4 linked regions of the Homo sapiens genome follow. The protein of the gene in region 4 interacts with the protein of the main gene of each other region in a pairwise test. Each region holds a gene or a part of one and is shown on either strand. Other genes may lie near its edges.

The links.
Region 1: the proteins of TNIK (region 4) and SPTBN1 interact in a two-hybrid assay, tested with the Homo sapiens proteins (2 studies listed by BioGRID and IntAct).
Region 2: the proteins of TNIK (region 4) and SRGAP3 interact in a two-hybrid assay, tested with the Homo sapiens proteins (2 studies listed by BioGRID and IntAct).
Region 3: the proteins of TNIK (region 4) and CNKSR2 interact in a two-hybrid assay, tested with the Homo sapiens proteins (2 studies listed by BioGRID and IntAct).

Annotation. Positions count from the first base shown.
Region 1 is NC_000002.12:54,641,285-54,648,326, forward strand, and holds part of SPTBN1 (spectrin beta chain, non-erythrocytic 1), read left to right. Parts: intron 1-1,698; coding exon 1,699-1,845; intron 1,846-3,038; coding exon 3,039-3,302; intron 3,303-3,944; coding exon 3,945-4,169; intron 4,170-4,643; coding exon 4,644-4,733; intron 4,734-4,909; coding exon 4,910-5,191; intron 5,192-5,846; coding exon 5,847-5,977; intron 5,978-7,042. UniProt on the Homo sapiens protein: Fodrin, which seems to be involved in secretion, interacts with calmodulin in a calcium-dependent manner and is thus candidate for the calcium-dependent movement of the cytoskeleton at the membrane.
Region 2 is NC_000003.12:9,246,610-9,254,358, forward strand, and holds the start of SRGAP3 (SLIT-ROBO Rho GTPase-activating protein 3), read right to left. Parts: upstream 3,038-7,749; 5' UTR 2,343-3,037; coding exon 2,276-2,342; intron 1-2,275. UniProt on the Homo sapiens protein: GTPase-activating protein for RAC1 and perhaps Cdc42, but not for RhoA small GTPase. May attenuate RAC1 signaling in neurons.
Region 3 is NC_000023.11:21,650,418-21,655,189, reverse strand, and holds the end of CNKSR2 (connector enhancer of kinase suppressor of ras 2), read right to left. Parts: intron 2,885-4,772; coding exon 2,669-2,884; 3' UTR 501-2,668; downstream 1-500.
Region 4 is NC_000003.12:171,079,375-171,086,416, forward strand, and holds part of TNIK (TRAF2 and NCK-interacting protein kinase), read right to left. Parts: intron 5,856-7,042; coding exon 5,744-5,855; intron 4,952-5,743; coding exon 4,781-4,951; intron 3,021-4,780; coding exon 2,877-3,020; intron 279-2,876; coding exon 144-278; intron 1-143. UniProt on the Homo sapiens protein: Serine/threonine kinase that acts as an essential activator of the Wnt signaling pathway. Recruited to promoters of Wnt target genes and required to activate their expression. May act by phosphorylating TCF4/TCF7L2.

The sequences.
Region 1 (7,042 bases), on a different chromosome or scaffold from region 4:
TATGTAGCGCGCTCTCTCTCTCTCTCTTTTTAATCCCTCTTGGGTAAGTGGTTATGAATAGCGAAAATATGTGAATGTCCTTGGCACTTTGAATCAATAAATGCCTTCTGTTTTGTGTGTATGTACAGAATACTGGGAAAAATTTTGTCATTAAGTTTTACTTTAACTTCTTTTCCCCTAAGATTGAATAGCCATAGTCTTTCAGATTTTAGCTGCCCAGATAACTGGAACATAGATAATTTTTTCCAAGTAGGAAGTGCGTGCCTTTATTGTCTAATAGATCCATGGTCTTTGATGACAAAGGACTTTATGAGATTTGCTAGTTTTTCCCTCAACAAAGAGTGAAATCAAAAATCTCACTACCTTTTGCTTTTAACCCCCTCCCACCCCCGCCCCCTGCCCCATTCCCTGTGTGGTGAATAGCCTGAGAATAGGGACAGTGCCCAAGAGTTCACCCACTTTCAGAGCCAGAGGGCTCCTGTGACCCACGTCGCTCTCCTTGACATCATTTCCAAAAAACAAATCTCGGGGAGCCTTTCCTGGCAGCAGCCCACAGTGGGAGTGGAAGGGCCTTGGAAGTGTTAATTCTGTAAGTACTTCTACTGGTTTTATGTGTCACTTCTAGATCTTTGTTGGTAGAACCATGAAGGATTTAAGGTGCCAATTTGTTGTGACAATAACTGGTGTAAAAGTGGGCTTCTCACGGTCACTCAGGAGAAGGGACATGGTCCCTTCAGTTGGTTACTTCTGATTCCAGGCTGGCTCTGCATTCTTTTGTGTATCTTCAGCCTGGGCAAACAAAAAGCTCTTCCTAGGTTAGCAAAGCAAATGGGGCGGGAATCAGGACTCTGGCATGGCCCTTACAGGCAGGCAGTAATGAGCCAGGGCCGATTCGGGATGGAAGCCAGCAAAAGTGGGTCTGGGCCTGGCGTTTGGCTGACCCCGGTAAGAGAGCTCCTTTCTCAGGTCTGTCAGCGGCCAGCAGCCTTTGTGCGGCTCTCTAGAGTTCAGATCCAAGCAGACATGTTGGGTCTCAAAATCAAGTCCTGTGAAGTGTTCTTGGTGTGAATGAAAGGTTCTTTAGAGAACTAGAGGCTATAGAAAAAGAGGTGAAGGTGACTCAAACTTGAAGGAAACATTGAAAGGGCATGATTGTTGCCTTAGCCCTACAGTGAGCAAGTTATTTATGCCTTTTTGCATTCCCTTCGATGCACCCACAAAAAGGGGGAGGTAATAAATAAGTAGTTTTTTTTTTTTTTTTTTAATAAAAAGAACTAAGAGAGTAAGAAGGATTGCCAAATGGAGTAAAAGTCAATCATGATTAACATGGTATAGCTGACACAGGTATTTGGAAGAGAAAAAGAGTCATGTCTTGGAGTGGTTAGGGTAGAATTTTAAACACGGGCCTTTTGTGGGGAAAGCCAGTTATGAGTGCCAAACAGTTTGAAAACTGGCTTATAGAGCTTTTGTACTTCTGGAATGAATGTTAGATATAGTTTGGAGCAGAGCTCAGGTACAAGCTCCATCTAATGGACACCTGTCATGACGGGTCAGAGTTGTGAAGTTAAATATTTGGTTGTCTGTCACCATGGAAACGTGTGTAGTATGCATAATATGACATAAACACAACCCTTTCCAGGCGGAAAAAAGGCTGATGTCTAGGATCACAATCTCTGAATCCTTCTGATCTTTCTGTAGCTGTCTCTCTGGATCAATGAGAAGATGCTCACAGCCCAGGACATGTCTTACGATGAAGCCAGAAATCTGCACAGTAAATGGTTGAAGCATCAAGCATTTATGGCAGAACTTGCATCCAACAAAGAATGGCTTGACAAAATCGAGAAGGTGAGTTAAAACATTTGATGTGGCCATGGTGAGAAAACAAACAGGGTAGTAATAAACTCCTTTTTATTTAGCACATTTTCCAGCATATCTGATCTTATCTGTACATTTACGTAAGTTACACAGCCAGTAATAGCTCCCTTTGCACGTACGGGTTCCTGACTTCAACCCATCAAAAGGGAAAAAAGCAGAAACCCAACCAGTTAGTAGAAAATGCTTGATTTATCGTAGAACGAATACTAGGCATTTAGTTTCTGTTGTGCCTCTCATCTGCTGTTGCTGATGGACTGTGAGCTCTCATGCAGGGATTCCACTGTCTTGATCATATTATTTGTGTTGTACTGTGACAGATTGCACATAATTTTAAATATATACATATTTTTTAAAATTGCTTTTTCCTATGAGACTACTGTATACCAGGCGCTATAATAATTACTATGATGTGTTATTCTTGCACAGAGAGATTCTGGGCAGCATAACTGAAGATGAATATGGAGTCCCCCCCTTCCCCCCGACTTCTCTCCTTTTAGACTTTTTATAGTGTTTCAGATTCTTCACGGTTAAAATAATGTGTTGGCAGGGCACGGTGGCTCATGCCTGTAATCCCAGCACTTTGGGAGGCCAAGGCAGATGGATCACTGGAGGCCAGGAGTTTCAGACCAGCTTGGCCAACATGGTGAAACCCCATCTCTATGAAGCATACAAAAATAGCCAGGCCTGGTGGTATGTGCCTGTAATCGCAGCTATTGGGGAGGCTGAGGCACGAGCCCAGGAGGCAGAGGTTGCAGTGAGCTGAGATCACGCCACTGTACTTCAGCCTGGGTGATAGAACGAGACTCTGTCTCAATATAATAACAATAATAATAATAATAATAATAATAATAATGTGTTGTATATCATCTTTGGTCATGGAATGGAGGAGATAAAGTCACGTTATTAGCATTCAGTATTCCGTTGCCCCAGTTGAGACTATTTCAGCATGTAACATTTATTGCTTAATTCCCATGAAACCCTTGTAATGTACACAACCTAGGGGTCGTTGTTGATTTTATTGAGCAGTAACTTCATGTGGAAAGACTGTGTGTATTGAGTGAATGGTTAAATCACAGATCAAATGTCCTAGGTTTGTTTTTCACAGTGACATTTTTTCTGTAGCAAACTTGTTTATTTACAACCATGTTGGTTTTGTTTTCCAGGAAGGAATGCAGCTCATTTCAGAAAAGCCTGAGACGGAAGCTGTGGTGAAGGAGAAACTCACTGGTTTACATAAAATGTGGGAAGTCCTTGAATCCACTACCCAGACAAAGGCCCAGCGGCTCTTTGATGCAAACAAGGCCGAACTTTTCACCCAGAGCTGTGCAGATCTAGACAAATGGCTGCACGGCCTGGAGAGTCAGATTCAGTCTGATGACTATGGCAAAGACCTGACCAGTGTCAATATCCTGCTGAAAAAGCAACAGGCAAGTGGACAAGCCATCATGGACTTGGGTGTATTTCTGTTTTACAGCCATAGTCCTTAGAGTCTTTTCTCACCCACTGCATTATCAGGAGTCCACCTTCCATGGGAAGGCATTTTTAACCCAAAATATTACTTGCTCTAACAGCATCGTAGAACATTTCCAGAATAGAAAGACACTTGTCCAAACTAGAAAGACACAGTATTAGGAGTATTGGGTGTTGGCTGTCTGTGTATGGGATTGATAATTTTCTTAGTTAATGGGTATTATCACCGTTTAACAGTTAAATAAATGTTCATCTCATTCAATTCTGCATTTTACACGAAAGAAATATTCTCATACTTTGTTGTTTAACATCGTGATTTGTGACAGTTATCTGAGTTGTTCAAGGCACTTTATAGGTAATAAAAATAACTGTTTATATTATATCACCGTAGAGGGCTTTAAGGGCAAATGAATTTACCTCAGATTTACTTGAAAACAGTTCCATTGATGTTGAAAAGCAAGTCAGTGGCAAAATGTTTGAGTGGCTCCCATGGCTGGCTTTGCGGTGTGGCCAAGTCCCAGGCCCAGCAGTTCTGCTTAGAGCCAGTCACTGCAAAAGATAGTCTGTGCTGAGCGCTGAGGCTGCTTCTCTGCCCTCAGATGCTGGAGAATCAGATGGAAGTGCGGAAGAAGGAGATCGAAGAGCTCCAAAGCCAAGCCCAGGCCCTGAGTCAGGAAGGGAAGAGCACCGACGAGGTAGACAGCAAGCGCCTCACCGTGCAGACCAAGTTCATGGAGTTGCTGGAGCCCTTGAACGAGAGGAAGCATAACCTGCTGGCCTCCAAAGAGATCCATCAGTTCAACAGGGATGTGGAGGACGAGATCGTGAGTCGACCCCTACTGCACACATGGCTTTTCCACGAGCCCCCTTGCCTGTGCTAAAGCCCACATTCTCACTTCTCAGTCATCCTCACCTTGGGCCACGTTGGCAAGCTGAGCTGCCAAAGTCCACGCTCTGGATGGTCTAAAGTTTCTTTCCCTTTTCACCCTAAATGTAACTCCATTGGTCCTCTCACGTTATCTAGGGATACTGTAGGATTTTAATGGCCCTAAAACAGACTTTTTAAAAGTAATGAGGACTCACAGTGAGTTTGACCTTGAGGATGAGGTAGAGTTGGAAAGACTCTCCCTAGCCCTGTCTCGGAGAACAAGGGCGTGCTTCCCCAGACAGCCCTCCCGAGGGGGCTGAGCACTCTCTGAAGCTCACCCTTGCTGTCCCTCACTGCCCCTCACTGCTCGTTTGTGTCGTATATTTGTTCCTCTGAGTGGATCTGACCACTTATTTAAAATTCTTCCCAGTTGTGGGTTGGAGAGAGGATGCCTTTGGCAACTTCCACGGATCATGGCCACAACCTCCAGACTGTGCAGCTGTTAATAAAGAAAAATCAGGTAAGCCTTTCTGCTCGAGCTAGTTCTGTCTGATAAATAATTGCTCTAAATTATGAGACTGGGAATGGCAGAGAGCTTTGAAGCCTTGCTATTTCTTTCTGGCCCTAACAGCTTGACATAAGCAGCAGACGGCTGCCATTTAGCAAGCCTTTGTGTGTATTTTCCGCTCCCTCCAGACCCTCCAGAAAGAAATCCAGGGGCACCAGCCTCGCATTGACGACATCTTTGAGAGGAGCCAAAACATCGTCACTGACAGCAGCAGCCTCAGCGCTGAGGCCATCAGACAGAGGCTTGCCGACCTGAAGCAGCTGTGGGGTCTCCTCATTGAGGAGACAGAGAAACGCCACAGGCGGCTGGAGGAGGCGCACAGGGCCCAGCAGTACTACTTTGACGCTGCTGAGGCCGAAGCCTGGATGAGCGAGCAGGAGCTGTACATGATGTCAGAGGAGAAGGCCAAGGTGAGAGGAGGCGGGAAGCATCCCTGTCCCAGGAGAGCCTCAGATTCAAACCCTGGGCACACTTTCTGCTGGCGGCTCTGTCTGTATAAAAACTTCCCTTGTAGCCTTTGAGTGTTAAGGGGACACCATGTGCATGAAGGTGTCTGAAATCCAGCTGCTGGTTTCCCTTTGGTGCAGCATTTTCTTATCTGAATCCTAGTGTGCCATTAAGAACAGGTTCATCCTTTCATCTTTGAAATATGCCAGAGTCCTTCCTGCTGTCTATTTATAGGTTCCCTAAACTTTACAAAATACAGGATGGCTTGGAGACAATTTGAAAGTATTGCAAGGTTCCAGGAATGCTGCCATTTACATACTTGAGGGACCTTGAGGAATTCCAGCGAACCAGGCACACTTGGTCTGCCCAAGCTTTTCTCTGAGAGGGGCCCTGCTCATTCTGCGTTCTCCTTGTGTTTATCTTCTGCACAGGCTTCTGTGGTCCAGTCCATATGGAAGCTCTTGGAACACTTCTGTGTTCCACTGTCCGTACTGCACCTCTGGAGTTTTTCTTTCTACTGATCCTTCCTCCTACCCTGCTGAGCAGCTGGTCTGTCACTCCTTAAGGGGTAGGGCCAGAGGGGACCGCTATGGTTGTGATGTTCTCCTGTCTTTGCAGGATGAGCAGAGTGCTGTCTCCATGTTGAAGAAGCACCAGATCTTAGAACAAGCTGTGGAGGACTATGCAGAGACCGTGCATCAGCTCTCCAAGACCAGCCGGGCCCTGGTGGCCGACAGCCATCCTGAAAGGTGAGCGCTGCTTCATGAGTGTGAGACCCGGCTCTCGATTCCTCTCAGTTAGGGTCTCTTGCTAACCCCCACCAAAAGAAAATGTCAGCATTCATCATGACTTGCTGGTAAGGCAAATCTTTGAGAAGCATTTTTAAAACAGACCCATCATTTAAAACATCCTATCATGATTAGGATGGGTGAACTGTTATATTAGGAAATTGCTCTTGTGGGTTAAATATCTCCCGTTGGCCAAGGCTCTCCTGAAAGAATATTGGTGTCGTGAGTCAAAAGTACAGGTTGACTAGGCTGGGCAGTCAACGTAAAGTGGCTTACACTTGTAATCCCAGCACTTTACCAAGCCAAGGTGGGAGGATTGCTTGAGCCCAGGGGGCCAAAGACCAATCTCGGCAATGTGGCGAAACCTCATCTCTACAAAAAATACAAAAAATCAGCTGGGTGTGGTGGCACACGTCTGTACTACTCAGCTATTCAAGAGGCTGAGGTTGGGAGGATGGTTTGAGTCCAGGAGTTTGAGTCTACAGTGAACCATGTTCACACTGCTGCACTCCAGCCTGGGTGACAGAGTGAGACCTTGTCTCAAAAAAATAAAAATGATCAGAAGTACAGGTTGACTTGCATGGTGGATACAGATAGTCATAGCACTTACACTTGGGTTGAAAAAGTCATCCAGTTTAGTAAAGTAATTACTAGTTTTAAGAGGAGCATTAGACAAGAATGCATAGACCTGTAAAATGAAGGGGCTCCCAGGAAGAACAAAGTGATAACACCTCCTAACTCTTCGATATCAAGTGATTAGAACACCTTCGAGGAAAAAGAAGAGGTGAGTGTGTGGTACTCATCAGGCCCCTGTATTAACTTCCAAAGCAGTCATTTTAGGATTTTTGTGTAAATGCCTTTTATGACTTGGAAAGGAATTGGCCTTGTGCATTTAACCAGGGCAGGTTAGGGGAGATGAGGTCAGTGGCTCTGTTGGTGTAGGAGGTTCTTAAGATGTTCATGATCAGGATTCCCAGGAAAGTGGCCTTCCTAGTCTCCAGGGATAGGCACCAACATGTCCTTTGT
Region 2 (7,749 bases), about 160 Mb from region 4:
CCTACTGTACATTGTGTGGGCCAAGAGTAAGTGATGTCTGGGAGTTAGCCATAGAAAATGCAGGGCCCTAGACACACATCAATAATTATGATGGTGATTAACACACAGAATTTTAAAAGAAAAGATTCCAGAGGGTTTCAGGGACAGCCATATCCTGACCTGACCTTGTGGGTGTCAATTCTAAAGGAATAAGATGTAACTCCTTTAGCCAGAATGCAAGGAAATTTAGTATTTGGAAGAGACAAGATCATTTGGACACATTTCCTGATGAATGCCTGGTAATTGGTGTATTTCTGATAAAACTCAGGGTACTCGCTGCTTAGTTGTTAAAATAAAAGATGAAAGGTAAAAAGCAAAAGGATCAGCCAGGGCAATTAATGCCTAACTGGCCCTGAAGAAAAGTTCACTGGCCCAGTAGTAGCAATCCTTCCAAAATGAGATAAGCACATTTCCTACCAAGAAAATATCATAAAACCTGAACTGTCCAAAACTCAACATCCCCTTCTCTCTCAAGGCATTTTCATGGCAACCTTAATTTTTATAAAATAATAATAATTGGCCAAATTCATTTTATAAAACATAAACTCCCTAAAAAGAGTCTATTCAAAGATTGAAACTAGGCTTTTGTATTGAGCAGTTGGGTGAATTAAAATCTCTGACCAATAAAGCGCTTATTTCTAAATTTTCAGCAAGGCTGAGACATCGTAAGTCACTGTTTTCCACATTGAACTGAAAAACCAAAGACAGGAGACCAGGGAAGAGCAGGGTTTTCTGCTCCTCTTGCCCTAGGATATGCCCAGAGGTGATGAGCACGCTGGGCTTTTGACCAGGACTAAAAGGCAAAAAGACTGTTGGTGAGACTGGAAAAAAAACAGATCCCTCCCCCCGTGGCTGCTCCACTCCCAAAGTTTCCCAAGCATCTGAAGCGTGTATGGCAGCTGCGGTGCCCAGCCTTCCCGCTGCTTTTAAGGAGGCCACCCAGCTCCCTGGGTCATTGGGTCTTCAGTTGCAGCAGCGCCCAGAAGCAGGTGTGGCAACCTCAGGTTGCTTGAGCCCCAAATACCCAACTTGCTCAACAGCCTGTGCATAACCTCAAAGATAGGCCTCAAGGTCCGCTGAAGATGCATTTTGTCTTTACTCTTTCTAGGAGAGGCCACAACACACCCTGTGTCGCAGCAAGGAGAACCATGACCAGAAAGAAAGCGGACGCCAAGAGGCACGAGCCCAGGCTTCCCACAGGGCACATCCTCAGAGAAAGGAGGAGCCTGCTGGATGGAGCTTTTAGATTTTCCTTGCCAAAGCTGAGCCTAGAACGTGTAGGGGTGGGAGAAGCCCCAGTCTGGCCTGAATGAGGATGCGGCAAGCCCGCATTTAGCCATGCAATTGTGTTCCCTTTCCTATTTCGCCTGGCTAGCGTGGATTTAGGGAGCGGCTTCTGAAAGAAGTATACACCCGGTGGCACAGAAGGTGCAACCAGCAGCCAGAGGTCATCTCGCCCTCCCGGCAGGCTTCTCCTGGAACCCCGGAAGCCAGGCAGCGCTGACCAGCCCAAACGGCATGCCGAGGTGTTGGCTTTGAATGAAAGCTGATGAACCTAAACGCCAGGGCACAGAGTGATTGGGCTGCACACTGCGAGATAATACATTTTCTGCACCAAGCTCCCTTTTTATGCCCAAATGCCTGCATTAGTCTGGATCAATATGCCCCATAACAGTTAATCCATGGCAACCCAGGCCAGCCCAGAGACACCGACAAAGAAGTGCCGCCCAGGGATGCTGCCTCGCTGTGCACATGCATGTGAATTCCGGCCCAGAGAAAGAGGCGGAGGCAAAACCACCACCACCAACAGAAACCAAAAAGGGGGAGGAAAAAAAGAGCAGATGGTAAAAAAATACCCCAATATTAAAGGGCTTTTACCATGGCAGGGAAGGGGTGGAGGTAGTGACTATCAAAATGGCCTTAGAGTGACATGTCACCGCCAAGATGATGGGGTATCAGCGACACTCCTAAAGTCAGGCATAGGATCCTCCTCACACACCTGCAATGCAGAGACTGCTGCCCATTCCATAATCCACACTCCCAGCCCCAGCGCTATCTGCAGTTGAAACCAGTCCGGACTTGTGCGGCTGCCACTGTTACTCCTCACAAAAAGATTATTGATGCATAACATTTCATAATGGCAGAGAGGAAAACGGGGGGCAGCGGGGGATGGGAACCAGAACAAGAGAAAAACGAAAGGGGAGGAGAAGGAAAACTCTCCCAGCCCGCATCTCACCTTTTATTTGGGCTTCATATTCAGCAATGATCTCTTTGTCTTTCTTGAACTTAGTTTGAGATGACATCTTCTGACGTGGCCAAAGGAACTGACAGGCTGTTTGATTTATTTCTCCTTTTCTTTTCGAGTCCTCTCTCAAGCCCTGGTAATCACACAGCTCTGGTCGATTTCACAGGTTTAGGGACTAATCTCTTTCACTTGGCTGCAGAGCAGGGAGAAAAATCCTTCTCCTTCTGGAAGGAAAAATCTCTTTACTTGCCGAGAAATGGCTCTAGTAGCTTGCCCTGGTCAGCTCCTCTTGCAAAAGAAGAATCACCCTAGGAGCACAGTAACCTGCCCCAGATTTTCAAAGATTTTTCTTCCAAAAATAATAATAATAGTAATAACCAAGCGCACTCACACACACATGCACACGTACACACACTCACGCATGCACAGGCACACTCACCGGGACACGCACACAGTTGTGCTGTGCACACAGGCATACACACACACACCCTCACACGCACACACACTCGCTGGATCACTCACACACACACATCCACGAGAGGCGCGGCGCCTCTTTGGTCGTGCAGCCAGCCCCTGGCTTGCTTTTGAAGGCTCTGCTAAGTCGATGGTCAGGTTGCCAAAGGGCCGGTCATCTCGCATCCTCCCTCCCTTCGGTGCCTCTGGTCTGATGTCCAGTGAGGATCAAAGCCAGGAGAGCGAGATGGAAGTTTTCCTGCTGCAACGCTTAAGCTCCGGTGAACACAAGGCTGGACTGCTCGCCCTGCAGGGCTGGCTGAGCTCTCCCCCACTGCTCACGTCACTAGACTCCGCCTCCCGGATTTTATAACAACTGACACATTGTAGCCTACAGGAGAGCAGAACTCACTGCAAGCAAAAAGGGGAAGAAACGCTCACAAAAGGGAAGGCAGCAGGAAAAGTAATCGGGTTGGTAAGTCTTGAGAGGCTTCTGCAAACTCCAAACATTAGCACTTGGGTTAGGGATTTTTCTTCCAAAAACTTAAGATCCTCCCTTTTTTTGCACTGTGCAATTTAATTCAGTTTCTGGAATCAACAGCTATATGATGGTTTGTCACTCTACTGGGATAGTCTAGCAGAGGGCCTGACCCATGTAGGGAAAAGCATCAATATTTGTTGAGCAGTTACTTGGTGGCAGAGACGATGCGAGGAGTTAAAGGCATGCAGCTTAGCAAAGCCACGCAGAGCAGGCACACTGGAGGCAGAACAGCTGGGTGGGTCATTGGCTTGTGGGGCTCTGGGCAAATTCATAAGTCAGACTGAGCCTCAGTTTCCTAGATAGTAAAATCAGCTCTCTTTGGAGGCTATGTTATTCATTCTTTCAACAGATATTTACTGAATGCTTACTATAGGTCTAGCACCGTTCTGGGTACAGGGATACAGCAATGATCAGAACTGGCACACACAAAAATCCCTGACCTTCTGAAGCTCCCGGGGCTCCACATCACACAACTCCAGCAGTTTCCACCATTCATGCTAATATTCTTAGTAAAAAGCACCCCTGGAGTAGAAAGCATTGTGAATGGTGCCCCCTGGAGTTGTACGAGGCAAGAGGCCCTGGGAGAGGAAGACCAAAAATAAGCACAGTAAGTATATTATATAATATCATACAAAATGTAAAGTGCTATGGGAAAAAATATTGCAGGGTAAGGAACATCGGGAATGAGAGGAGCTCTTGAAAAGATCAAAGAAAAATGCAAAGCTAAGCTTAGCACAGTCTCTGGTGCATAGCAAGCACTCAATAAACAGTAGCAACTGTTATTACCCTTTTATATCCCCCAACAACCTAACAACATAGGTATAAGCACCACTCTTTCACAGACAAAGGAGCAGAGGCTCAGATATGGGAAGTGACTTACCCAAGGTCACCAGCCTTCCAACCCAGGCTCAAAGTCTCCTGCATTCTACAAGGGAGACCAAACCCATTTCATGTGGAATTAAGGTAGAATAAGATTCATTCTGTAAAAACTGAGTCAAGCACTAAAGAGTCGCTGATCACTGGAATTTCATATGCTAAGATTGTCACTAATGTGTATTGGCCCCTGACTGTCCCCTGAGATAAATGTTCCCAAATTTCTCAAAATAGGTATAGTCTTCCATTTGCCTTTTTCTGAGTCTATAATAAATGATTCTGTTTGGACTCAGAAATGAATAGGTTATCCATGCTAGTCCATCAAGGCTTCCTAGAGGACATGGCAGCTGCAGTGGGCGTCCCCAGGCAAGTATGGCAAAGGGAGTGAGGCGGGGCAGGATGTTCTCCTGGAGCACACAGCATGAGCTGGGGCCCACAGGTGGCAAAGCACAAGACCTGCTTGGAGCAACGACAGGGAGAAGTCCAACTGGTGAATCATGGGGCTTATTATAGCCTTGTACCCGGAGGCAGGAGGTCACCAGTTCAGAAATAGATGCCACTGGCCCGCAGCCCTTGCCATCACCCCACTGCCTCACGCCTCCCCTGGACATGTTCAGGCCCTTTGCTGTCCTCTTCTAACTAGTTCAAACCCACAAAAGCCCCACGTTACCTGAGAAAGATGGGCACAGAGATTAACATCCCTGCTGCAAGTCTAGATTCTTCAAGAAAAATGAAAGTTAAAACCATACACCTTGGAGTACGACAGACTGGATCCTCTCCTGGCTCTGCCACGAGCCTTGAGCTCATGAGAACTTGAGCAAGTGGCTCAACCTGCTTGTGTGCCCACTGGTGGCAGGAACTCAGTAAATGTCAGCTATTTTCACCATTATTAAAATTTTAAATCCACAAATAGTTCTAGGAGACCTATGTGTAGGGTGCTGAGCCATGGAAATGTCACAAAAATGTCACAAAAAGCCATACAAAACCAAGGCCAAAGATGGTATAGCGCTCTGAGCTGACACCTGGCAGAGGCTGGGTTTTGGAGTAAGTCAGATGGTGGTTTACCTTCTGGCTCTGCTGTGCACCAGCTGTGTGTGGGGCTCATGGAGGAATACACCTTCTCTGAGTCTTGGTTTCCTCATCTGTCATAGGGTAGTGATCCACCCATGGCACAGGATCCAACACGATCATGGATTTAAAGTGCCTGGCATAGAGCAGAAGTCTCACAGACATAATTTCTTTTTTAGAGCTGTGGAAATGTGTTCTTCAACGTTGGAGGTGGGATCTGGTGGGCAGTGTTTGGATCATGGGGATGGATCCCTCAGGAATGGCTTGGTGTCCACCCCACGGTAATGGGTTCACAAGAGATCTGGTTGATGAAGAGTCTGGGACCTCGCTCCTCTTCCTTGCTTCCTCACTCACCATGTGATATGCCTGCACCTTCCACCATGATTGGAAGCTTCCTGAGGCCTCATCAGAAGCCAAGCAGATGCTGGTGTTATGCTGGTATAGCCTGCAGAACCATGAGCCAAATAAAACTTTTTTTTTTCTCAAGATGGGGGTCTCACCATGTTGGGCAGGCTGGTCTCAAGCAATTCTCCCACCTCAGCCTCCCGAAGTACTGGGATTGCAGAGTGAGCCACCACACCCAACCAAATAAAACTTTTTTCTTTAATTACCCAGCCCCAGGTATTCCTTTACAGCAATGCAAAATGGACTAATACAGGGCCCAGCCAAGCCAGACCTAGGACTAGAGCTTGGTCTCCACAGATACCCAGATTGGGAAAAGGAAGAGAGGAAAAAAAAGAGGAAAAGGTCTGTGTCCCCTGAAAAATCCATCACCACACACAATAAACCCACATCATCTGGAATCTTCTATCCCCAAGAAGATGTGGGTGTGACCTGGGCAGGCCCCCAGCACCAGGTCCTCACCCTTCCAGTCCTCCCCACAGCCCACCCCAGCCCTCCCGCTGCCCTCCTGTGACTCCTCCTCTGTGAGCCCACTTTTTCCTTGCTGTCTGAGAACCAACTGCTATTCCCAATGTTTACCCTTCACATGGTAGTAACAGAAACCAGATTTGTCTCCAAATAAATGTGGTAGGTGTGAGGGGAGGGCCTCTACCATGTGATTTGATCTATGCCACCCACTAAGGACCAGAAAAGCCCCTGGAAGTGTTTATTCCATTTCCTTGGGGCTCATCTCCTGAATTCTTTTAGATTTTCCTAAATTATACTGATAGCTAGTATTTACCAAGTTCTCCCTGCACACAAGCACAGGGCCAAGCACTCTATGTAGATTTTATCACTGATTTTTTGCTACAGCCCCATGAGTCCAGTGATGTAAATCATCCTTGTTTTGAAGTTGGGTAAACGGAGGCCAAGAGCAGTGAAGCAAGTTACCCAAGATCACAAAGCTAGCTAGTAACTTAATTGCACTGAAGCCCAGGTATGGCTCATAGCGGAGCCCAAGGACTTAAACAGTGCACGATTCTATCCCGGAGGAATCAGCATAGGAATAATTGCTATCAAGTAATAACCCATTTTTTCATTCCCTATAATTACATTGTTTCAATACGGAGTTCAACGTAAAGTTTTCCATTTAAAAAAAGAATTTGGGGTTAAAAATATAAGGAAAACATGTCACAAGTGACCACTAGTGAGGCATAAATTACAATAACAGCTAAACAATGCAAAACTCACTGAACCGGTTTCTTTTCCTGGTAGAAAGAAAAAAGGCTTCATCTGAAGGAAAAGTGGCCAGAATAGTTTTTGGTTGAAAGTACTTTTATTTTTCTGGTCGAATATGAACACCTCCCCCTCGCCGAGATGACTAATTTTGTAACATTCTCCACGTTGCTACCAGCAAATACATCCTTGGGCAGCTCAGTGAATAATTCTGCCCTTCAAGCCCTGCTCTGCAAAATGAAAGCAACAAGCAGAACTCAGCTAGTTGATGGCAGATTTTAATAGAATTAATAGTGATGATGACAACATGCCTAATGTGTATATATTGCTTTATATTTTGTAAGGCTCTTTCATATCATTTGTCGTATGTGGTCCTCACAATAACCCTGGGAGGGGACGGAATGGCAAGTAGGGCTGTTTTCAATACCTGTTTCATTGGTAAGGAAATACGTGGATAAGCAGAGGTTTTGATGGTACAGTTGTTTTATAACCTCAAGTTATAAGGATGACCTTTCCAACTGTGTCACAAAACCCATTAGCTGGAAAAGCTGACAAATTCAACCACAGAACAATACTTACAAAATTCTGCTTGACAAAAGCAAAGTCAAAGACCAATGGCAAGCTCAGAAACAATAGTTGCAACACCTATCATAGGCCAAAGAATAATTTTTCTAATATCAATTCAAACAAATACTCATACATGAATATTCGTAGGAGCCCAATTCACAACAACCAAAAGATAGAAACAACCCAAATGTTGTTTGAATGAATGGATAAACAAAAAATGGCATATCCATATGATGGAATATTACTCAGCCATAAAGAGAAATGAAGTACCAATACATGCTACAGTATGGAGGAACCTTAAAAATATTATGCTAAGTCAAAGAAATACACAGATTATATGAGTCCA
Region 3 (4,772 bases), on a different chromosome or scaffold from region 4:
TCTGTCACCGGTGTCACCCTAGGCTGCTTTTGCCCTGACTTTAGACAGCTCACTGGTTTTAAGTCACATTTCATCAACCCTTAGCCATAATAATCAGGATCCTCTGGTTAAGTGGAATGTCTAACCAAAACAAAACAAAAACTGATTTCTTTCATACTCTTTTAAATGTTCATTCTGCAGACATACTGTAGATTATATTTGTAAAAAAAAATCAATTTTTGGTGGTTACCCCCACTTCCCCCAAAAGAATCACAGAGAAAGGAAAGAGGAATAGGTAAAGTTTTAAACTTCGTCTCAGGTAAATGGGAAACGAGCTTGATTTTTCAGGGTCTTAGATAAGACACTTGTATATACTGAACAGGTGCTGCTTTTGGCTTGTATCACCAATGAGGCAGCAAAGTTAGAACTCGAAACTAGGGTGGGGGGTGGTGGCTGTATAATTAGGTCACAAAGAAATGTGGTAAGGACTTTGCATGAATAAAGTAGGTGCTTTATAAGGATTCATTAAGAGCTGAATTTATTTGACTTCAGTTTACAGTGCTGCCTCTCTCCTAGATTTGAAACGAATGCAATAAAATGTACAGATATTATATAGTGTTAAAAGGTCTCTTTCATGCTAGGCTAGCCACGAGTCTTGTCAAATTCATTAGTTTAATTTTTACCATTTAAAACAACAGAGCTGACTTTACAAAAGTAAAAGCTGCTTAGTAGCAACAGAGCTAGTCTTCCCGTCAACTGCTTGCTGTTTACAGGCCACAACCTGGCCACTGTAAACATGACACATCCATCAGGTACATATATTTTTAAGTGAACATACACATTTGGTCTAGTAAACATCAATAAGTCTAAACACCTGTTAACAAGCACACTTCATTTTAGGACAAGAGGTTTTTTGTTTTTTTTTTTTTTTTTTTTTTACATATACAAAATCCCACAAATTTAATGTGCGTCAATATCCATGCAGTAAATAAATGTTTTTACAAATAGAGTTCTTTTTAAATGATAAAAATATTACACTGGACCCAAAATTCCATACAAACATTAATACATGATTTCTCATCCATTTTGACTAAATATAGGATTACTGAAAATGTGCTGTAGAAAGGCCACTCTCCTGTACAGTTGTGCAAAGTCTGCAAAACGATAGTGATTCAATGGTGGTTTCAAAAGCAAAGAAAAAGATCCCCGCTGTGGAGTTTTTACTTTCTCCTCTACAGCAAAAATATTCACTGGCATATATCTGAACTCTTAAAGATGAAAGTACATTCACTGAGCTGTACAGGCAACAGTATAAAGCTGATTAGAAGTAGATTTTAGGATATAGAATAGTAAAGGAGGTTCCCTTTCTCCTCCTGAAAAAAACAGCAAATTGTGACTTGTACATTATGCAGCCAGACACTAAAAAGCAGCACAGTCATTTTCATGCTGTGATCACTTTCAAAAACAAGACGCTTATAAATGGAAATATATGAAGAGGACTTTTCCTTAGACTTCATCCACTCTATAGAACAATTCATGAAGCCAGGAAAAAAACCTCTAAATTGTTTCTCTCATAATTCAATGTGACATCTCTTTGAATGACCATCACCTGCTTGCTCCTTAGAAGGGAAGTACATTTTTATTTTTCAGTGTTGTTTTTTATAACACACATCAGCCTGAAACTAAACATATTGTACTTCCCTACCTGAAGTATAATTACCTAAGTTTAATTAGTGGACTAGGGGAAAATTGGAAACTAAGTGGAAAGTTGATTCATTTCAGTTTATACCTTGTTGTCTTTTAAGAGTTGGAGTTTAAAAACATGAGTTTGGGCTGAAATTTATATATATATATAGCTGTTAGCTGCCTTTCTGGGTGTGTTAAGTCAGTTTTTAAAAATCCCCTCTCAAATTCTTCTGTACACAATCAGCATCTCATCACTACAAAAATAAAGGAAGATTTAAACCAAGAAAATAAAGCAGCTCTATCTTCAATTTTGGTCTTAGTTACAAAAACATCTTACAAAGCTTTGCCCTGATACACCAAGTGTTCTCATAGATTTGGAATAATATTTCCATTAACTTAGCTTTCACAAGTTAATAGACTATTAAGACGAATATTAGATACCTGAACTTTTCTTATGTCGATGCTCTTCTATTTTGCTTAGCTCTTGTATGCGCATCTACATTTCACAAAAATAAAACTACAGCATTAAACTTTGTGCAATGTTTAAGAAAATTCTTAGAACATTTTAATAAATATAAAAAAGGTTTAAATTCTTTCCCACCCACAAGGATGTCTGCACCTGAAAAAATGTGATTTACTTTTGAAGTCTTGTTTATATAAAATTAACTTAAAGGGAGAAAAGATGACCATAGATAGAAAACTGCCTTTTGTGGTTTTACTACTTGAAGACCACCTGTATTTAGAATTGTTTGCAAAAGTTAATTTTAAGTCATTAAAGACAGTTGATTTTGCACATGGTAAACATAAGCTGAGCACTGTTGCATATAAAATATACAAATGCTCATTAAAGATAGTGGTATTGTGACCATATATGGTTTGTTTCATATAGTTTGGTAACATTAAAGTATAGCTTGTCAAGTGTTCCACACATTGATATAAAAACTACCTTATATACTTGTTCAGAGTACCAGCAGGTACTAGATGGTCTGAAGGCAGAATACATTTAGACATGCGTTTCAATGTATGAATGAGTGTGTGCTAGAGAGGAAGTGATTACATCTACTTCAGAAGAAATACTCAGTGGGTCATTTGAGGTGGTATTTTGACAGATATCCAAGAAAAGGTCGAGGTACATCTGCTTCCATTGTTGGAATTCTTTAGATGTCAAGTCTGGATTGTCTAGGACTTTATCGATAATGGCTACTTCCCCTTCTCTGGCCTGAAAAGAAAAAGGATTCAACAATTAAGACAGGGACAAAGTTTTATTCAAGTTTAAAATAAAAAGTTAATAGGCAAAACATTTAAGAAGCCCATAGGAGATGGCTTTGGATACTCACACCCACCCAGCTCTTTAGACTCACGTCCTAGTGTACTTTTTTCTACACCCGAGGAACGCCTCCTTTTGCCCACTGTGTGGTTTGCTTTTTCTCTTTGCCTGTCCTTTTGCCCATCTCTGCTATGGAAACCTTTTTCGTTCTTTAAGATCCAGTTCAAAAGCCTCTCATTTCTTCAAGCTGTGCTTAAACACTCAGAAAAGTTTTCTCCCTCATTTATGCCCCTTTACTACTCCATCAGTGCCACTGAGTACATTTGTCATATTCTATTTCTTGAGTTACTTTTGCATGTGTTCTATTTCTCCTGCTTTATGGTAAGCTTCTCATACTTGAATGAGACTGAGCATGGCCCCCCTGTTACCACAAATACATAATTCTTGCTGTGTGAATGTTATGGCTCCCTTTCTGTAGCACTGGGGGCCTGTAATGGAGAATGGCTCTCCCTTCCATGTTGGAAGCTGGGTCTCAGCTGAAGACTGAGCTTCATTTTGGTATAACTCACCAAGTTAAAACTATCACCTGGGGAAGATGAGAATTTCCCAGGTGGAAGGTGGGATGGAGAAGTAGGGGTTAAGAAAGTCTGAGCAGCTCAGTCCTGACCCAAGTAAAGCTTAGGGAAGTGTAGAAAATGTTCTGCAGGAAGTAAGGCATACACCTCTGGGCCAGCCAGAGTTGGGAGGCAAAGAAAACAGTAAGGTGGTTAAGAAGTTGGTCTGGCCTCACAGACCAGAATATGGAAGAGGGCTGGGACTGAGGATGTTGTGAGTTGCCTGTGGTGGGATCTGAGATCTGTGCTTGGTGAGGGGGACTGTTAAAATTCCAGGAAATAGACACATCCAGGGTTGCTTGGCCAGCTATGCTTCCCTAATGAAGGAATTCATTCCCTATTAATTTTCCATGCCAAAAACCATAGGGTTCTGTAGTTCATTTGTACCAATGAGGGACATTTTTTACAGTGACTTTTCGTTATCTTTCTTGGTCCCAGAGAATCGAGTGGAGCATTCATGTACCTGGTGATTCATCAATACTTAGTGAACTGAACATTGGCAGTAGCCATATATTTTGTCACTGGAAGAAAATACCCTGGGGGACTCTACAGAGCATAAAAGACAGGGAAAAGGGGCTGTGAGATAGAAGGAGAGAAACAGGTCTTTAAGATCCATGAATCTAACCTGCTTCAAAATGCCTGCCTGCCTTCTAAACCAGGCAGTTTAGAACTGAATGGGGGAAGTGGAGAGGCTCTATAAGGTGGGAGGGTGATGATATCTTTGGAGTAGGATTAGTCACTGCAACTATTCTTACGACTATTAACAGCACTCTCTAAAAATTCTGCTCTTCCCAAAAGTCCATTAAATTGTCCCCTGGATTTGCAGTAGTATTTGCATGACTACCAATTAAAAGCTAATGGAGTCTGAAAACTTTGCTGCTTGCTATCTGAAATTTTTTCAGGTCATTTTCTAGTTTGTCTGTCTCTTTGGTACTCACCTATATTTCAAAATTACAAAACCTCAGCAGCATGCTATGGATCTGAAATATTTCCCAAAGGAGCCCTCTGACCTTCTGTTTCCTGAAATTACTACAGCACATACTCTGTATGATAGTTCTTTTTTTTTTTAATTATACTTTAAGTCTGGGATACATGTGTAGAATGTGCACGTTTGTTACATATGTATACACGTGCCATGGTGGTTTGCTGCACCCATCAACCCATCATCTACATTAGGTAGTTCTCCTAATGCTATCCCTCCCCTAGCCCCCCACCCCCCGACAGGC
Region 4 (7,042 bases):
AAATAATGCTGAAGGTTCCAGCAACATCTGAAGCTGGTCACACATGCATCATCAATCTGATAGAAAAAACTAGGTGAAACCTAACTAAGTAAGTCTGATTGAGTAAACAGACCAAACTTATAATTCCATGTCTTGAGACTTACCAACTTTATAATGTATACAGCCTTCCAAGTCCCCAACAGTGATCCAGCCTTGTTTCTTTTCTACTTCTGGGTCATTATGTAGTATTCTGTTTCTTAACCATGAAAGATAGTAAACTCGTAGCTTATTCTTCTTTCCTGTTGAAATAATAGAGGTTTAATTTCAAATTGCTGTGACAGCTCTCACTTTTTCCTTCCCCACCTCCATTTATTTCTAATTTATTTTATTTACGTGTGTGTGTGTGTGTATGAAGGCATAATAACCAGTGTCCCCAGCACTTTGTCATTAAAATGGTGTTTCTGCCAGAACTTATGGTTAAAATAGCTCTACGTGTTTTAGACACATCACAGAATTACAATGTCTTTTATCTTCAGGTGGTTTCTTATTTGAGCATGTGCTCTTACTCTCTCTTCCCAATGCAAAGCAGTGTCTGCTGAACTTAGTAAGAGCTAACTCTTCAACAGAGTGATCAGAGTTCCAGAACATTCTAGATCAATCACATGAAGAAGTGTTGGCAACTGGGCATTTTGGCACCTGCCTTTCCTTCACCGTATAACCTAATAACAAACAAGAGGATAATATGGGTTCAGAAAATTATACTGGGCAGGTTTATGGTGCTGAAGTCACTGAAAGGAATACTGAACAAAAATAGGAAAAAAAGGATGCAAACTTGAAAACTTAAATTTCCGTTTGGTAAAGTGATCTTGGAATAAAGAATTCATAGGATGATAAAATATTTAGACAATATTGAAGAGTACACAAGTAGCAAAACTTGATATACTCCATTTGATGATTTGCACCAGATAAAATGTCCATTGGGATGACTCTTCCTAACTAATGATAAATTTAGCTCTATGGGTTTTATTTTTTGGATACTTATTTTTCTTTATCTTAGGCTTTAAAAATGTTTTATTTATTTATTTATTTATTTTTTTTTGAGACATGAGTTTCACTTTTGTCGCCAAGGCCGGAGTCCAGTGGCATGATCTCGGCTCACTGCAACCTCTGCTTCCTGGGTTCAAGCGATTCTCCTGCCTCAGCCTCCCAAGTAGCTAGGATTACAGGTGCCGCTCCCAGCATGCTCAGCTAATTTTTATATTTTTAGTAGAGATGGGGTTTCACCATGTTGGCCAGGCTGGTCTGGAATTCCTGACCTCAAATGATCCGCCCGCCTCGGCCTCTCCCAAAAAAAATGTTTTATATTTTATAGATGAATATATACCAGCAGAAGAGAACTTAGTAAAGCATTACACATGCATTTGACAGGAGAGCACATTCATCACCTAAACTAAGGGAATCATTGTGTGGTCAGTATTCAATTTTGTAACCAAAGGCCTAGAATCCACATTGATCACAGTAGCTAGGATGGACACGAGAGCCAGTGTTTCCTCCTTTCTATGCCAATATGAATCCAAGGTTAGTTCAAGAATCTTTTGCTCCTATTTTCATTTTCTCCTTTCCCTATCTGTGCCTCATGAGAAAAGGAAACTCTTACACTGTTAAGAATGAAGATGTGCCACTAACAACATAATGAAGTCTGAATGTGAATTTTCTGGTTGCATTCCCACTTTTGGCAGATATGCAGTTTTCATTTTGATTTGGTAGTATAGCAATCAGGACAGCAATTAACCAGAACAAAAGACTACATGGGATTAAACTCAAATGGCAATACAAAAGGAATTTACCTGGTTAACCTTATTTGGGGAGAATAAAAAGAGATGAAACTGAGCATTCAGTGGAAAGGTAAAAGAAAGAGGAAGTTTAGTGACAAGCAAAAGCATTTTGTCAAAATGGAAGTACAGCTGAACTTTGAGGAAAGTTCAAACCAGCATCCCTGTGTTGTCTCTTCGTGAAACAATGGCTGAGCATAAATCCATGTTCTCAAACTTGGCTGTACAATGGAAACACATCAGAAACTATGAACGCTCCTGATGCCTAAACCCCACCCCCAGAGATTCTGACTCTGGTCTGGGGGTGCAGCCTAGATTTTCACATCTCCCTAGGTGATTATAAAGTGCAGTAGCAAGTTGGTTCCATACTAGATGGAATGAGAGGGGAAGTGACGGGTGTTACTCGTTAAACTCCTTCAAATACCAAAAAGAAAAAAAACTTTCAACAAAACTACCCTCTTTTAGGTTGCATTTTTAACTTGTTACAAGGCCTTCACTTTAGTCTCCATCTTTTTTTTTTTTTCCTATATAAGGCTCTTTTTGGGAATCAGAAAGCTACAGAGCATAGCAGTAATGATTCCCACACTCAAATCTTTTTGTAGACTTGATCACCCAGTGTGCCAGCTGCACCTGCCAAAACATCAGTGGGCTATAAGCAAGAGAATTTTTGAGGGAAGAGACCAAGAAATTTCTGCTTACTAAATGTCCCTCTAGGAAGCCTGCATTTTGATATTCTGTCTGTATGTGGTAATAACTGGAGTGCAGAAACCTTAAAAACATCCGAAGATCCTTGCTGAGTCCTGACAGAGGTAAAGAGCTATAAATATATAGCCTTTGTGGTATGTCTCTGCCTAATTCAGATTTAATGCAGAGGTGAGAGACTTCTTTTTGGAGGTCAGAATTCCCAGTGTTACAAAATGTGGGCAATCTCACTCTGGCTATACTGCTATACTTTATTGTGTTGTTTGTTAGCTGGGAAGGGCAGAACTAACTGTTTCTGCAGAAATGAGGTGGATCCCTTTCCCGCTGTATGGACCTGGGGGACTCATCATCTTAGTAACATACCTGAAATTGTCACAAGGACATTCAGTCCCTCTAGCACATCCATCTGCTGAAATCGCCTCCGGTTGATCAGATTATAGACTTTGCCTTGCCCACTTCGGTCCAAAAGCATCAGGCCATTTTCAGTCCCCACCAGAAGGTTTACACCTGTAAATTTAAGAAGCACCCTAAGACTGACTTTTCATGAACTTTAATCTTCTGCATCGAGAGTCCCTATAAAATTTAAGAAACTGTGACTTGTAAATATACACTAATGGGCAAGTAGGTAAATATAAACTAATGAATGTAGAAGCTCTGACATAATAATTAAATCATTGTACTTCTGGTAATGAAATTACAGTTTTCTTTTATAAAGTTAGCAGCATTCATACATCTAGTTATTTACTACCTAATGCAGAGAGTCCTTGTCAATAGGAGCCTTAGGCACAGATGTGAAGCTAGCATAATTTGCCTTTATTCCCTGCCTGGAAAAACCACTTCTTTCTTGGCTCTCCCTATAAATCACTTCTCTTCTTCCCCAAGATTCACCCCCACCCCTATGCAGTGGTCTCTAGCCTACCCACCTTCAATATACAGTGGAATTTCCATTTCCATACTCCAATGGAAGAAAGGCCCTTCCTCCTTCTTGAATCAAAATGTAACTATCTTATGCCCCATACCCTCAAGTTTTTGCTCTTTTTTAGGGAAATGATAAACCCATTCAAGAGAAGTGTTAATAGCTGGAGAGTCACAGACATACTCACTTTAAGGGACTTCTCAGGTCTCTAAATCTAGTGCAGCCCAACACCCATGCAGTAATCCCTATTACAGAAGCACAGGCACATAAGTGGCTTTGTCTGGGTAGTTGTAATCCTAAAAATTTATGGCTAGGGAAATGTATCATCCACCCCTCAACACACACACACATTGAGAGGCTCATTGTGCAGTGTACTTTATTCATGAACATGTAACTCTCTAACTTCTCTTACGTCTTGTACTTCTATCTTCTGATCAACACAAATGTCTGCTTTTTTGTCCATATATTAATCCTTTCAGTATTAAATGTGGCTATCTTGTTCTCTTCTGTCTCTTCTCCAGAGGACAGAGCCTCTATCATGAAATGGTTCCTAGGCTTCACACTCTTCCCCGCTAACATCTCAAATGCTTTCAGCCTTTTAAAATTATGGTTCCCCAATCCAAGCCTAGTATTTTCAGTGGGTACACAGGGGACATGTCCTTCCTTAATCTGTATGAGATGTTTATAGTAACACAGACCAAGACTTTGATAGAATCTCATCATGCCTCTCCTGAGTTTGAGGTCAGCTAAAACCTGCAGATCTTTTTCACGAGAAAATGCAGATTGATGTTTTAAACTAAAAGGGAAAGTTCATTAAATTATTTGTTGTTCTTTTCAAGTTTTATCTTGTTATTGCTAGGGTTATGACCTTTAGTAATTCACAAAAATACTCTGGGCTGATTTTTCAGCTTGAAATAAAGGTTTATGCCATTATTTATGCTCATATTCCCCTTGCAGGATGTGGTATGGATCATGGAGAATGAACGTGGGGTATATCACAAAGTGCCAGACACAAATCGCCTCTGATTGATCACATTATAGGCTTTGCTTTGCCCACTCAATGTATTCAGTGGTAGCTAGTTCTCTTGTTGGCTTTAGCCTATCACTATTGTGTGACAAGGTTGCTCTGAATCTAATCTCGTCTTCCTGGCTAGTAGCGTATCAGCTATTTCTACATATAAAACTCCTTTTGGTTTCTCCTGAGGTCAAGATAGTCCCAAGTTAGGTCTCTAATACCCAGGATTCAACCAGTGTTCTTTTGATGACAAGATCCACAGGCTTTTAATGTTTGAGGGTCAGTTCATTAATGAGTGGTTATTTAAAAAAAAAAAAAAAAAAAGCACCAACATACCCCACAGAGCTGCACAAAGTATTTCTGAGTTGAATCGTTTCTTGTATTTTCTGATTTCTGGTGTGTCGCTATGAGGCCGAATGTTGGTTGGGTTTACATTTACCACCGAAATCTTTCTTGCTTCATTGAGTTTGGCCTGTTCTTGCCTAAGAAGTTCGCTAGTAAACAGAGCTTTGAGAAAAAGAATCAGAGAAGTCAGTGACATCTTAAAAGATAACTTATGGAGATGGGGCTTCAAAACACTATGATTTCTCCTTGTTTGGTTTGAATTATAGTAAAGGCAAGGAAACTCTGAAACTCTCCTTATTTTACACTTTTTTTTTGTTTTAGTAGAATAAAGTCTAAGTCATTCATCAAAGGAATCTTTTATTCATTAGAAAAACAGGCTTATAGACACTACTTGCAGAGTCTAGAAAGTCCCAAATTAAATACACCATCCCCACTCTTGTATATAGGCAAAAAAGATCTACTTTTTAAAATTGCAGTTTATCAGTTGAAAAACTGTCCTAAGCTGACTTTGATGATTAATTACTTGAAGAAGATTAGAAAGCAAGACTCCTTTAAATCAGCCTGATCTTTGTGGTGGGAAGCACACACCTAGAACTCAACACAATGTACCATACACTTATTAAGTGCCTAATGTGTGTAAAACATTGTACCCAGAAATTGTTTTGGGGAAACATTTAGTTATGTTCAGAGATCACTGAGGAACAGCTTTTCCTAGGGTCCCTATGTACCCCTGGGTCTACCAGAAACGAAATAGAAGAGATGGGAAAAAAAATGGAAAGTAATACATTTGTTTTAGGAGTCCTACAGAAATAATAATTTTAAAAAGTCTTCCTTTTAAGATAGGACCTAAGCAGTAATCAGCTTAACTACTGAACTGAGGATTAATTTCCTTATCAGGTCATACCAGAAAGGAAGACGAAGCTGTTTTTTAAACACAGGGCCCTTCTTGCTTACCTGCGGCTGATGATTCCTCATCCTCTTCATCTTCATCAGTGGGAGACGTCTGGTATACTCTGGGGTCCACAAAGGGGGTGAAGGAGGCTTTGGTGCTGCTCCCCATGCCATACTAATCAATAAGCAAGAAGATTAAGAAGAGCAGATAAATACTGCAGGAATAACAATGCTAACAATACTGTGCTTGGGCTGTAAAACGATCACAGATTCTTCAAGGTATTCAGGTGTTCACATTCTAGTGCTCTAGTCAGTGCGTGCCTGTCTCCAGCTTCTTCTGGTATTGGTTACTCACTAGTCATTGTGCATTCGTAGGACTTCATTAATTATCAGACTGCAAGAATTGTAGTGAGAAAATTACATTTTGGACCACATGTGGCACCTTAAAATCTGTAAGATCACTGTGGTGACAGAGCTTACCTCTCCCTTTCAGTAAAAGCAACCTCCTATATTGACTACTTGATCAATATGAAAAGCTGACATAATTGGCAATAAACTAAGTAAGGAAGCCTATACAGCAGTACTTTATCCTGAACAGAGTCAAACCAAGGGGCTTTCTCTTGGGGAGGAGAGCTTTGAGCCCTTCTACTCTGGCCTGGTGATGCAAGTGAATTGGTGTTGGCTCCAAAAGCTTTAAAATCCTCAATTCAGGGATGATTTTATGCTGGAATTGAAGATATTTCCTTCCCACGATAGTTTCCTTAAAAGAATAATTACATTTACATCCTTATTTAGGGACTTCATGAGGATATTACGTTTGTGAGCAATGTACCTTGAAGGCTTACTTTAAAAAATGAATCTTGGGCTTGAATGGCACCATGAAAACATGATGTCAGAAGGAGATGAGGGAACAGTAAACTCAATATCAGGGTTTTATGTCACAATATTCTAAATTTGAGTTTTGCTGAATAAGCTGCAATGTCAGTCATGTCCATTTCTTCTATTCTTGTCCTTTAACATCATAAACACATCTGTATTCAACATAATAAGCACATCTTTTTTGGATAAATATCTTTAACTAAAGGTTATTTCACTTTAGTTTTACTGTTAGGTTTTTATTTAAAAATAAAACCACCATCCAAGACCTCTAAACATATAAGGAGAAAACCACAAAGATCTAATCTGATTTAATTCAAGATTTTCTTTCCATCCTATGAAATCAAAACCATTTCATCCTCCTCAAGGTTGAATTCCCCCTACCAAATAGAACACTTTCACGTACATGTTCTCTTTTGATCTTTGGAAGATGTCTGTGAAAGAGGTAGGGCAGGCACTAACATTTCCACATAGAGCTGGGGCAGC